2 separate regions of the Homo sapiens genome follow, and region 1 is linked to region 2. Evidence: fine-mapped expression QTL. A gene starts in region 2. The other region holds a variant in brackets. All regions are shown on one strand. Distances are between the middles of the regions. Region 1 holds the start of GRIN1 (glutamate ionotropic receptor NMDA type subunit 1). Region 2 holds the start of MAN1B1 (mannosidase alpha class 1B member 1).

The links. PIP is the estimated chance that this variant, and not a neighbour inherited with it, causes the effect.
Region 1: its variant is fine-mapped to the expression of MAN1B1 in spleen (GTEx, PIP above 0.99).

The regions. Positions count from the first base shown.
Region 1 is chr9:137,134,797-137,140,153 of GRCh38, reverse strand. It overlaps GRIN1 (glutamate ionotropic receptor NMDA type subunit 1), which reads right to left and starts at 1,000. Exons shown (of 20, transcript NM_007327.4): 1 at 410-1,000. The coding sequence starts at 667. RefSeq lists a silencer at 1,163-1,457. The variant A/G (reference allele first, on the strand shown) is at 2,686.
Region 2 is chr9:137,084,721-137,090,081 of GRCh38, reverse strand. MAN1B1 (mannosidase alpha class 1B member 1) reads right to left here and starts at 3,097. Exons shown (of 13, transcript NM_016219.5): 1 at 2,864-3,097; 2 at 1,899-2,007; 3 at 1,077-1,213. The coding sequence starts at 3,082. MAN1B1-DT (MAN1B1 divergent transcript) reads left to right here and starts at 3,265. Exons shown (of 1, transcript NR_027447.1): 1 at 3,265-5,136. RefSeq lists silencers at 2,734-2,963, 3,514-3,743 and an enhancer at 2,944-3,173.

The DNA.
Region 1 (5,357 bases), 50 kb before region 2:
AGAACCTGGAAGCAGAAACAAAGATGGCCCCAGGCCCCGTCCTGTTTAAAGCTCTGCAGGGCGGGCATGTAGCTGGACAGGCGCTTCTACTCTCTTACCCGGAATGCCCACCCCCACACTGACACACTCCAGCCCCACGTCTACACACACCAGTCAGGGCCTGGAGCCCCAGGGGCCCTCTGAGGACCAGCCAAGGTGGCAGGTGACTGGTCTCAGGCCAAGATAGGGGAGCCAGCAGACCCTGGTGTTTGGTTCCTAGTGAGACGAGGCCTCCCGGAAGCAGCCAGCTGACTCTGGGGTGGTGTCTTACAGGGAGGAAGGGGGCACGGAAAGGATGGAATGAAACTGGGGGTGTGGGGTTGCAGGATGGAGGAGAGGGGAGGTGGGTGGCGGAGGTGGGGGAGGGCACCTGGCTGGAGATGAGGTCCTCGCACACCGACAGAGCCATCTGGATGGCGTTGGGCTTGTGCGTGACGGAGGTGGCATTGAGCTGAATCTTCCAGGAGCCGTGCCGCTTGTTGGCCTGGTTCACGGCCTCGCGGAACATCTGCTCGTGCTTCCGCGTGCTCAGCACCGCGCCAATGTTGACGATCTTGGGGTCGCACGCGGCACGGGCGACGGAGCAGGAGAACAGCAGGGCGAGCGTCAGCAGGCGCATGGTGCTCATGGGCTCGGGCCGCGGGCCTGGCTCTGCGCGGCGCGAACGCGGGGCCCTCGGCGCATCCCCCGCGGGGCTTCCGGGCCGTCCTGCGCTCGCCCGGCCCCGCGGGCTGCGGACGCCACGTCTCCCCCGGAGCGGCGGTCCCGGGACGTCGGCCGAGGGAAGGGGCGCTGAAGCGTGCGCGGGGGCTCGGGGCTCAGCCCCACGCGGCCGGCGCTGTCCGCGGTGCTGAAGCGGGGCCGGGCACAGCTCCGAGCGCCCGGCTTGGAAAGGGCCCGGCGGCGGCGGCGGCGGCTCCGCGGACGGCGCTGGTTCCGGTCCGGACGCTGCGGCGACTGCAGCAGCTGCAGAAACGCGAGCGGGGCCAACGTCTCCTGCCCCTCCCGCCGCCCCCGCTTCCCAACACGGAGGCGAAGGGGGCGCCTCCCGCGCCAGAGCGTGCGCCTGCGTTCGCGTGAGCGTGTGTGTCGGAGCGCGCGTGAGCCGGGGAGCGCGCGTGTGCGTGTGAGCGCGTGCCTGGAGGGGTCCTGGGACAGGGGCCTGTGCTGTCGGGGACCTGCAGGGAGCTCAGTTTGGAAACGTTAGAGGGGTCCGTGTCACCGCGTGCAGCCCGCACCCTTGCGTGCCTTTTAATAGGACCGAACGCGTCGTGCCCGCTTGTATGTGTGTGTGCGCGCAAGAGTCGTCACCCACAGTCAGCGATATTTCGGCTCCTGACTCTTGCAGACTGGAGCTCCAGAGGGGTGGGGGAGGCCCTAAGCCATGGCTCTGGGGGGCGCTCCCTTCAAGGTTCCCCTCCCCACAAGGTTCAGAAATGAGGGAGAGGCCCCATCTGCGTGGCCATGTAACTTGGGACCCCCCTCCTCGGGCTAAGAGGAATAGGGAGGGTGACCGTGGCTGCCGCATGTGCTCAGCCAGGCCTTCCGCGAGAGCCTGGAAACTGGACCCGCACTGACTGGGGCTGAGGTCGGACACCAGGAATCACTGGAGCGCCGCGAGGTGTGTTCGGGGCCAGCCGTTTCACACCCTCAGCTTCCGCTCCTCTCTCCCTCTCCAGCCCCCTCGCAATGCGCTCCCAGCGCCCCCTTTTCCAGAGCCTTACCCATCCCTCTGGTCCACACCACCCTGTCTTTGTCCCCCTCCACCCCTGGAGTGTGCGTGCCCCTCCCTAACTTGAAGGATGGCTGAAGCTCCGCCCCTGCCAGTGATGTCACCATTTCCAATAGCAACTGAGGATTCTGCAGACCTAACAGCAAACGCCCCCAATGGGACAAAACAGGGTCGTCACCACACCTCTGCTATGTGCAGCAGTGCAGCAAGGGAAGTCATGTGCCCACAGGGGTCACACTCTCTCTCCCGCTTGCCGTTCTCTCCATCAGCCGAACACTGGCACCAGGGACCCCCTGGAGCTGAGAGGAGGGGGAGGGGCTGTGGTGTTTGACAAGCTCCTCCTCTTGGCCCCTTCTCTCTCAATACAGGAAAATCTTTCCTTGGGGGATCACCTGCCCGTACCCTGCTGCAGACCCCGCCTCTCCCCGTTCGGGTTGAGGCACACGGGTCATCCGCCTCGGGGCCCTCACTCCTTCTGTTGGCTCTCAGGAGGGTGTGTGTGGGTGCTCAGGGGGACTGAGCTGGCCCTATCTCCAGGAGTTTGTGGCCCATCTCCAAACTTCCACCTCGGCAGGGCACAGTGGCTCATGCCTGTAATCTCAATACTTTGGGAGGCAAGGGCAGGTGGATCACCTAAGGTCAGGAGTTCGAGACCAGCCTGGCCAACATGGTGAAACCCTGTCTCTACTAAAAATACAAAAATTAGCCGGGCGTGGCGGCAGGCATTTGTAATCCCAGCTACTTGGGAGACTGAGGCAGGAGAATCGCTTGAATCTGGGAGGCGGATGTTGCAGTGAGCCAAGATCGCACCATTGCACTCCAGCCCGGGCGACAGAGCAACACTCCATCAAAAAAAAGAAAAAAAAAAGTATCCGCCTCAGGCAGGCCAGAGCCTGGCAGCTGCGTGGGGGTAG[A/G]CCTGAGCCCAGACAGCGCCTCATCAGCGTGGAAGAAAGGGGTTGGAGGCTGCAGCAGAGGCCCTGGCTCCACCCACCCACCCCCACCCCGTGGGGTGCTGGAGCGACTCCCGCTGACCCTGGAGAGCTGATCGCTAAATGTTCAGACACCTGCCAGCAGCTGTTACAGTCAGGCTTCGAAATTGGCCACAGTGGGATTATCTCTGCTGCCACGGAATCATCAAACCCCACAAACCAGGGCTTTTTCTTTTCTACTCAGGGAGCTGGTCTGCCAGTGGGTCACTGCCCCACCGGACCGTATGTGCGTCCCCAAGCTTCTGTTCAAGACCCCTTGGCAGGTTGTCCATGATGGAGATGGGGTGGAGGCCGCGTCTCCAGGCCACAGCTCCTCCTGTGAGCGAGTCTTTCCTGGATTCTGCTCTGCATTTTCCCCCCGTGGGCTTCTTCCACAACCATGAGGGAGGGGGCAGTGGTACCACAACAGATGAGCCTGGACTCGGACCCCTCTGAGACCTGGTGAGACAAAGGCTGTGGGGAGGACCAGAGACCTGGGGCACTGCCCTGGGATGGGCCCGGGGCCAGCAGTCAGGCGCTGGGTGGGGAGGGAAGCGCTGTTCTACCCCGGGCCACTGTGGGACAGTCTCCCTCTGTGGAGATCCCCTTGCCCACTCTGACAGCTGCGGCCCCGGCGGGAGGCGGCTGCTCCTCCCTGACCCCAGCCTCGCGGTTCTAGTCAGGGCTGTCAACCCGGGTGCAGACGCGCCCTGGCCTCAGTCCATTGGCCGAGGGGTTGCCAATCAGGGCTCTCCCTAGGATTTTGGGCAGATCAGAAGCAGGGAAGGGACCCCGGCTCTACATCCTCTGCAGGTGAATCCCTGAGAACTGGGGCTCAAGAGCCACCTGCAGACACATTTCTGTCGAGAGGAAGCCTGCTTGAGAGGAGGAGGCAGACAGACAGGGGTGGGGCGGGCAGAAGCGTCTCCACCCATCGCAGCCAAGGCCGGCCAAGGGCGTGGAGGACAGGCCTGCTTCCCGTGCCAGCTCCTGGAGGGGCTGCCAGGCCACGCAGGGGAAACGGAGCTGGCCATCTCGGGCCTGGCCCCCGCTAAAGAGCTAGACTGGGGTCAGGACCTCTGCCCTGACCTGGGGGAGCCCAGGGACCCTCACAGAGGTATAGTCTCTGACACCCACGAGGCTTTCCCGCCAGCCCTTGTGCTGGACTGGCTCCCATACCTTCCTGCCTCCACAAAGTCCCTCCTCTCTCCCTGTCCTGACTTTCCAAATTCCACCTTTCCTGGTAGCCGTCTTCCCCATCACAGGATCCCCACAGATCCGACCGCAGGCAGCACCGCACCGCACGTTTACTCCACTAGGCACATTCACTGAGCACCTACCGTGTACCAGACGCTGTTCTAAGGGTGGGTATGTGGCAGTGCAAAGGCTGGACTTTCTGACTTCATGGAGCACAAACACATGAGCTCCTGAGACCATTCCACGTAGCGGCGCGTGGTCTCAAGAAACAGAATGCAGAATAAAAGGCAGAGTGTGGTGGAGCCGGTGGTGCTTTGAACACCACCCTGTTCGGCAGAAGATTGATTTCCCTCCAGGCATACATGGCCTGCACTTACAAATGGAACGTGGTAGAGGTAATGGTGCGTGACTCCCAGGTGAGGTCTAGAAAGAACACCTCCCAGCCGGGCGCGGCGGCTCCCACCTGTCATCCCAGCACTTTGGGAGGCCGAGATGGGAGGATCACCTGAGGTCAGGAGTTCGAGACCAGCCTGACCAACATGGTAAGACCCTGTCTCTACTAAAAATAAAAATAATATATATATATATATATTTTTTTTTGAGACAGAGTCTCACTCTGTTGCCCAGGCTGGAGTGCAGTGCTGCAATCTCGGCTCACTGCAAGCTCTGCTTCCTGGGTTCACGCCATTCTCCTTCCTCAGCCTCCCGAGTAGCTGGGACTATAGGCGCCCACCATCATGCCCGGCTAATTTTTGTATTTTTAGTGGAGACAGGGTTTCACCATATTGGCCAGGCTGGTCTCTTGGCCAGGCTGGTCTCGAACTCCTGACCTCATAATCCACCCCCCCCCCCGCCCCCGGCCTCCCAAAGTGCTGGGATTTCAGGCATGAGTCACCACACGCGGCCACAATATTGAATCTTCTAATCTGTGAACATAGGATCACTCCCCATTTTTTTAGGCTGTCTTTGCTTTCTCTCAGCAATGTTTTGTAGATTTTAATGTACAAGGTTTGCATTTATTTTCTTAATTTTAATCTAAAGTATTTTATTTTTCTATGCAATTGTGAATGAAGCTGTCTTCTTAATTTTATTTTCAGACCATTTATTGTTAATAAGTATAAATAAAATTGACAGTGAATGCAGGTCTTCTGGTCCTCCCTGTGATCTTTATGAACTTGTTCGTTAGTTGTTACTTCTGCTAGCTTGTTGTTGCTGCTCTTGATTCCTTAGCATTCCTGTTCCTGACTGGATTTTTTTTTTTTTTTTTAGACAGGATCTCACCCTGTCACCCAAGCTGGAGTGCAGTGGTGCAATCTTGGCTCACTGCAACCTCCACCTCCCGGGTTCGAGTGATTCTCCTGCCTTAGCCTCCTGAGTAGCTGGAATTACAGGTGCCCGCCATCACGCCCGGCTAATTTTTG
Region 2 (5,361 bases):
CACTCCCCCTGCCCTCCTCCCTGACCCCAATCTTCTCAGCCTGGTGGTGCCCAGGACTAGGCCTGGCCCCTTCTTCCAACGTTTCCAGAGGACACAAACCACCTATACCTAGGGACTCCTAAAACCTGTCTCCCCTGGCAGACTCTGATCCTGGCACCACCTGCCCACCAAGGTCTCCATGGCGCCTCCCAGACATCTCACAGTGGGCAGATCCAAAACGGAGCTCCTCAGTGTCCCCAAGCCAGAGCCTGCACAGCCTTTGCTGGCCCCTCCACCCGGGGACTCACCCTCCTTCTCCCAAGGCCCACTCCTGCGGAGCACTCCTCCCCCCACTCAGCTTTTCCCACGGCCAGGCAGCTCTCCTGGCCTCCTGCCCTCCACTGTGTCTCCACCCAGCCAGAGCAGTTTCACAGTAAACATCTCAGACCTCCAGTCCACGCCAAAATCTTCCCGCATACATCAACTGGACCCTCCATGCTGCCTCCAGGACCTGCAGGACCACAGCTGGACTGAGCCAACCCCTGCTCCCTCTCCCAGCCCTGGGAATTTCACCTTCCCGCATATGCCAAGGTCCTCCTTGCCTCAGGCAGTTTCACTCAGGCTCAAGTCTGCCTCTCCCCACCTTGCCCGGTGCCAGCAGCTTCTCAGCCCTCAGATCTTGCCCTCAGTGCCACGGCCTCCCCTGAACCCTCAGGACCAGCCACTGTTCTTCACCAGCGCCCTGCTCTTTTCCACATAGGATGTACACCATGTGCCATCTGCCTCTGCCCATCTGTGCCTGGCTTCTCACCAGCCTCTCCTACCAGCTGTGGCCTCTTGAGAGGAAACAGGTCTGTCTTATTCAACACTGCACAGTCAGAAGTAAAACCGGAACTGGCCATGGCTGGTCTTCAAAAAGAATGAAGCAAAGACTACGCCTCTCTTTCCCCAAGTATTATCCGACCAGTCCAAAACGAGAGAGAGGTAAACACGTGGTAATAAATGGTAAAGGAAAATAATTCTTCTCAATCTTCAGTGGTTTGAAATGCCTCTGGATTGAACCCCAGTTATAACCCCACACCATTTGCTCAAAGTACCTGTGACGAAATCTCAGGTAAGTTCTCAGGGTCGGTGTCCGCCTTCTGAGGAGCTGGTAAGACGGGTGGATTTGCTGGTTTTAACCCAGCAATTTCTGGCCTCATCTTCTGCTCTTCCTCTAGCCTGAAAGCCAGAGCTGAATAACAGAAGCTATTTTATTTCAAATATGCCACAAGGCCTACAAGAGATTTAAACTGCTTTATAAAAACACTTGGCAGGCACTATCCATTACAAATCAACATTATGATACCTGATAGTCACTGAAATGAATTCAACAATGTCCCAAGGGAATGAAATCTTTTTCAAAACACTTGGCAGTTTGTGTCCTTGTCCATAACACAGAACCCCACATCTTTTGCCTTCCTATTTTCCATTCAGGGACGTTCAGCATGTGGCAGGTGGGCAGGAGCCCTTTAGCTTTGCTCCAAAGAGAAGCATCTTAGACCAAGTGAGAAGAGATTCTCCACATCCTCACCAGAACTCTGCCTGGTCTTTTCCAAACACACGCTAATGAGTGCTACGAAATTTGTGTGGTTATTTAGGCTGAGTGTTCAAGCCCACCAGCTGACTTACTCTATAAGGGAGGCTGGACATATCAGTACTTACACCAGAGACCTAGAAAGTAGTCAGACAGCATCAAATTAACATCTGTGTTCTAGCCAGGTGGTTACATACAGCTCTACCTTTCTCTTTATCTTGATTTCTTGCCAATTCGTTGCCATATATGCCTCCTGGAGCTGTTTAAGGTAGAATGCAAGATTGCTTCTGCCCAATCAACCCTCAACACAGATATCGTTTTCAAGTACACGTGTTTCTGATACCTTTCCAATGGTCAGCCAAGTTGATGTAGAAGAGGAGTCCACAGAAAAGCAGAAAGGCAAGGAGGAAGAGAATCATATTCCGCTGCAATCTCGACAGTTGCTTCCATTTCTAAGGGAGGTACAGAGAATGACATTTCTTACTGAATATATCACACGGAACGTCTCAACTGTCACAAACTGTGAGGACAATAAGGAATTCTTCTGGAAGATCCAGTGTTCAGCTCTATTTCTTTTTTTTTTTGGAAACAGGGTCTCATTCTGTTACACCTAGGCTGGAGTGTAGTGGGTGGAACGCGGGATGAGCCACCGTGCCCGGCCAGCTCTATTTATTTTGAATGGGGAGAAGTTCCCTCTCAGCAGGGAGTAGGAACATTGCTGGGACAATACTACAGATGTCGTTAATACAGTGGTGCAGATGAGACGAGGATAAGAAAAAAGCAGAAACATTTCTGTCACATTTCATCAACAGTGGAGAAAGACTCCTGCGACTCCCACAGATGTAGCCCAGGCACCGCCCAGGCGATGCACAGTCCGCATGTGGTTATCAATGCCCTTCGGCCTGAGACCACCACGAACAGACCAGGAGCCAATCAAGAGGGGCTCATTTCTCACTGTACCGAGGGGAGCATACACCACGGGGAACCTCCGGTTTCCGCTCCAAGAGGGGCAGGCGCCTGGGCCAGGACCTTGCAGAAAAGCGAACGAAGCCCAGAAAACCTGCTGGGGCTCTGAGCCCTCTTCCCACCACCGCCCCGCAGAATTTGGGCCGCTGAGACCGCTGCAGGCGAGCCGCCCACGGCTGCCCCAACCAGGAACGCACATTTGCCCCTTTTTGCGGGGAAGGGGTGGAGAGGGCGGCGCCTGGGGAGTCGAGTCCGCCCGCCCAGGTCCCGCTCGGAGCCGCAGTCTGGGAGGGCGGCGGGCACGGCAGCCCCGGGCCCCAGTCAGCCCGGCGCGACCCTCACCCTCCAGCACGAGCGCCGCCGCCAACTCTTGCTGTTGTCATAGTTCTCGCCAAAGCTCAGCGTCACCGAGATGAAGTCCCGATGAGGCGGCGGCGGCGGCGGTGGGTACATGACTACAGTGGTGGCGACGGCCCAAGGGGCCCCGCCCACTGGCGGCGTCAGGAAGTCCGACTGAGAGGAACCGAGAGCTCCGCTTCTCCTGCCCTCGCAGGCAGCCATCGCAGCGCCGTCAACAGCCCGCCCATCACACGGATACGCGACTGCGCGTGCGCTGCGTCTCTATGCGGCCAGTGCGCCCGCGCCTGTCTCCGCTGCGCTCCAGCGTACGGGGCTGCGTCCTACGGCGACTGCGTCAGACAACTGCTGCGACTCCGCCCTGCCCTCAGGTTCATTGCGCATGCGTCCGGCAGCGCCTGCCCAGGTGTGCTACGAGCGTAGCTGTAGCAACGGGGCGGGCCTTGGTTCGCCTGGGGCGTGGTCGCTGTCTGGGGCTCCCACGTGGTTCGCCTCATGGGCCTGGAGCTGGGCTTCTCTCGCCTCCTGTCGTCTGGCTGCACCGACTTTGCCCACGCCCTCACGGGAGACGCAGACACTAGGGACCCGGGGAGGCGCCCGGGCGGGGCCGCCATGTTGGCAGAGAGTCCCAGCGTCCCGCGCCTCGGTTCCGGAACCCGCGGCGCGGGGATGGAGCTGGGCTGCCCTTGGGCGCCGTCCTGGGCTGGTGCCCACCCTGGCCGCGTGGTCACCGGCAAGAAGCCCAGGGCCTCACCCAGGCGTGGGGGCCGGGGGAAGGACCGGACCCTCCCGAAGTCGCGGACCAGGCCGGGCGGCACCCGGGCTGGGGTGGCTGCTACCCCGAGCTAAGCTGGCTGCGCCGCATCTCACGGTCCCCGGGGCCCGAGCGCTGCGCCTGGACCGGCGCCGAGCGAGGCGGCCAATCGGCCGGCTGGACCCACAGTCCCCGCGCCATAGGCGGGTCGGGGCTTTCAGACCCGGCTCCCAGCCCTCGAACTCGGTAACCTTGGAGGTCAGCTTGAGATGACTGCGCTTCCTGCACGCGTTGTCCTCCCCAGAAACGCCCAAAATGGCAAAGCGGCGTCCGTGGCCGCCCGAGGCCCTCCCTGCCTGGGTTCTCCCCAGCCGAACCTCACGCCCGGCCCCTCCTTCATTCTCTCCTGGCCAGGCTGCTCCTGCCCTTGGGCGAATCCGCTGCGTCCCACGGTCCTGACTGTGGCATTTCTGCGTGTCTGGAGAGCTCCCCCGGCAGCGACGTCCTGCTTAGCACGTGGCTCGTCTAACTCTGTTCCCCTGGCCTCCTGCTCTTCTAGGGGTCATCTTTAGGTTTCTGCTGGTCTCTGCCCCCTGTGACACTTGCTGGTACCCAAATGAAGTCGTTTATGTCACACTCTAACAAGAGGCCCTGAAGAAGCCCTCACAAAAACATTAGCAACGGAGCGCCTGCGGCAAACCCTTCTAACCTTTGGTCTTTATGGTTTCAAAGCAGTTTATGGGAACTTCTCTTTTTTAAAAGATTCCCCTTGGGGCCAGGCGCGGTGGCTTCTGTAATCCCAGGACTTTGGGAGGCCGAGGCAGGTGGATCACTTGAGGTCAGGAGTTCAAGACTAGCCTGGCCAACATGGTGAGACACCCGTCTCTACAAAAAACACAAAAAAATTAGCAGGGCATGGTTGGTGGCAGGCACCTGTAGTCCCAGCTACACGGGAGGCTTAGGCAGGAGAATTCCTTGAACCCAGGAGGTGGAGGTTGCAGTGAGCCGAGATGGCACCACTGCACTCCAGCCTGGGCAACAGAGCAAGACTCTGTCTCAAAAAAAAAAAAAAAAAAAAAAAAGAAATTTCCCGTGGGCGGGGCACAGTGACTCATGCCTGTAGTAATCCCAGCACTTTTGGAGGCCAAGGTGGGCAGATCCCCTGAGCTCAGGAGTCCAACCTGGGCAACATGGTGAAACCCCTGTCTCTACAAAAAATAAAAAAATGAGTCCAGTGTGGTGGTGTGCACCTGTGGTCCCAGCTACTCTGGAGGCTGAGGTGGGAAGACCACCTAAGCCCCAGGAGGTCGAGGCTGCAGTGAGCCATGATTGCACCACTGCACTCCAGCCTGGGCAACAGAGTGAGATCCAGTCTCAAAAAAAAAAAATTCCCCCTTTCCTCAATCCCCACCCCACCCCCCCACCACATGCCTGTGACCCACTGAGGCTTGCATACTCTGCATTGCAATTATGTGTTATTCTTGATTAAATTCATTTATTCTGGAGAGCCTGAGTTTCTCTTTAGGTTGACACCACTCACTCTTGTCAGTCCCTGGAGTACCCCAAGCATCCTCACGTGGTTAGCAGGGAAACCTTGGCATCTCAAGGATGCAGGTGCAGGAGAGCGAGTCTCCAGGCTGTCAGAGCTGAGCATGCAGAAGCCTGCCCTGGAGAGCGCCCCGAGGTTCCTGACCGCAGGTTGTCTCAGGCCCTCCTGAGACCCTGGTGA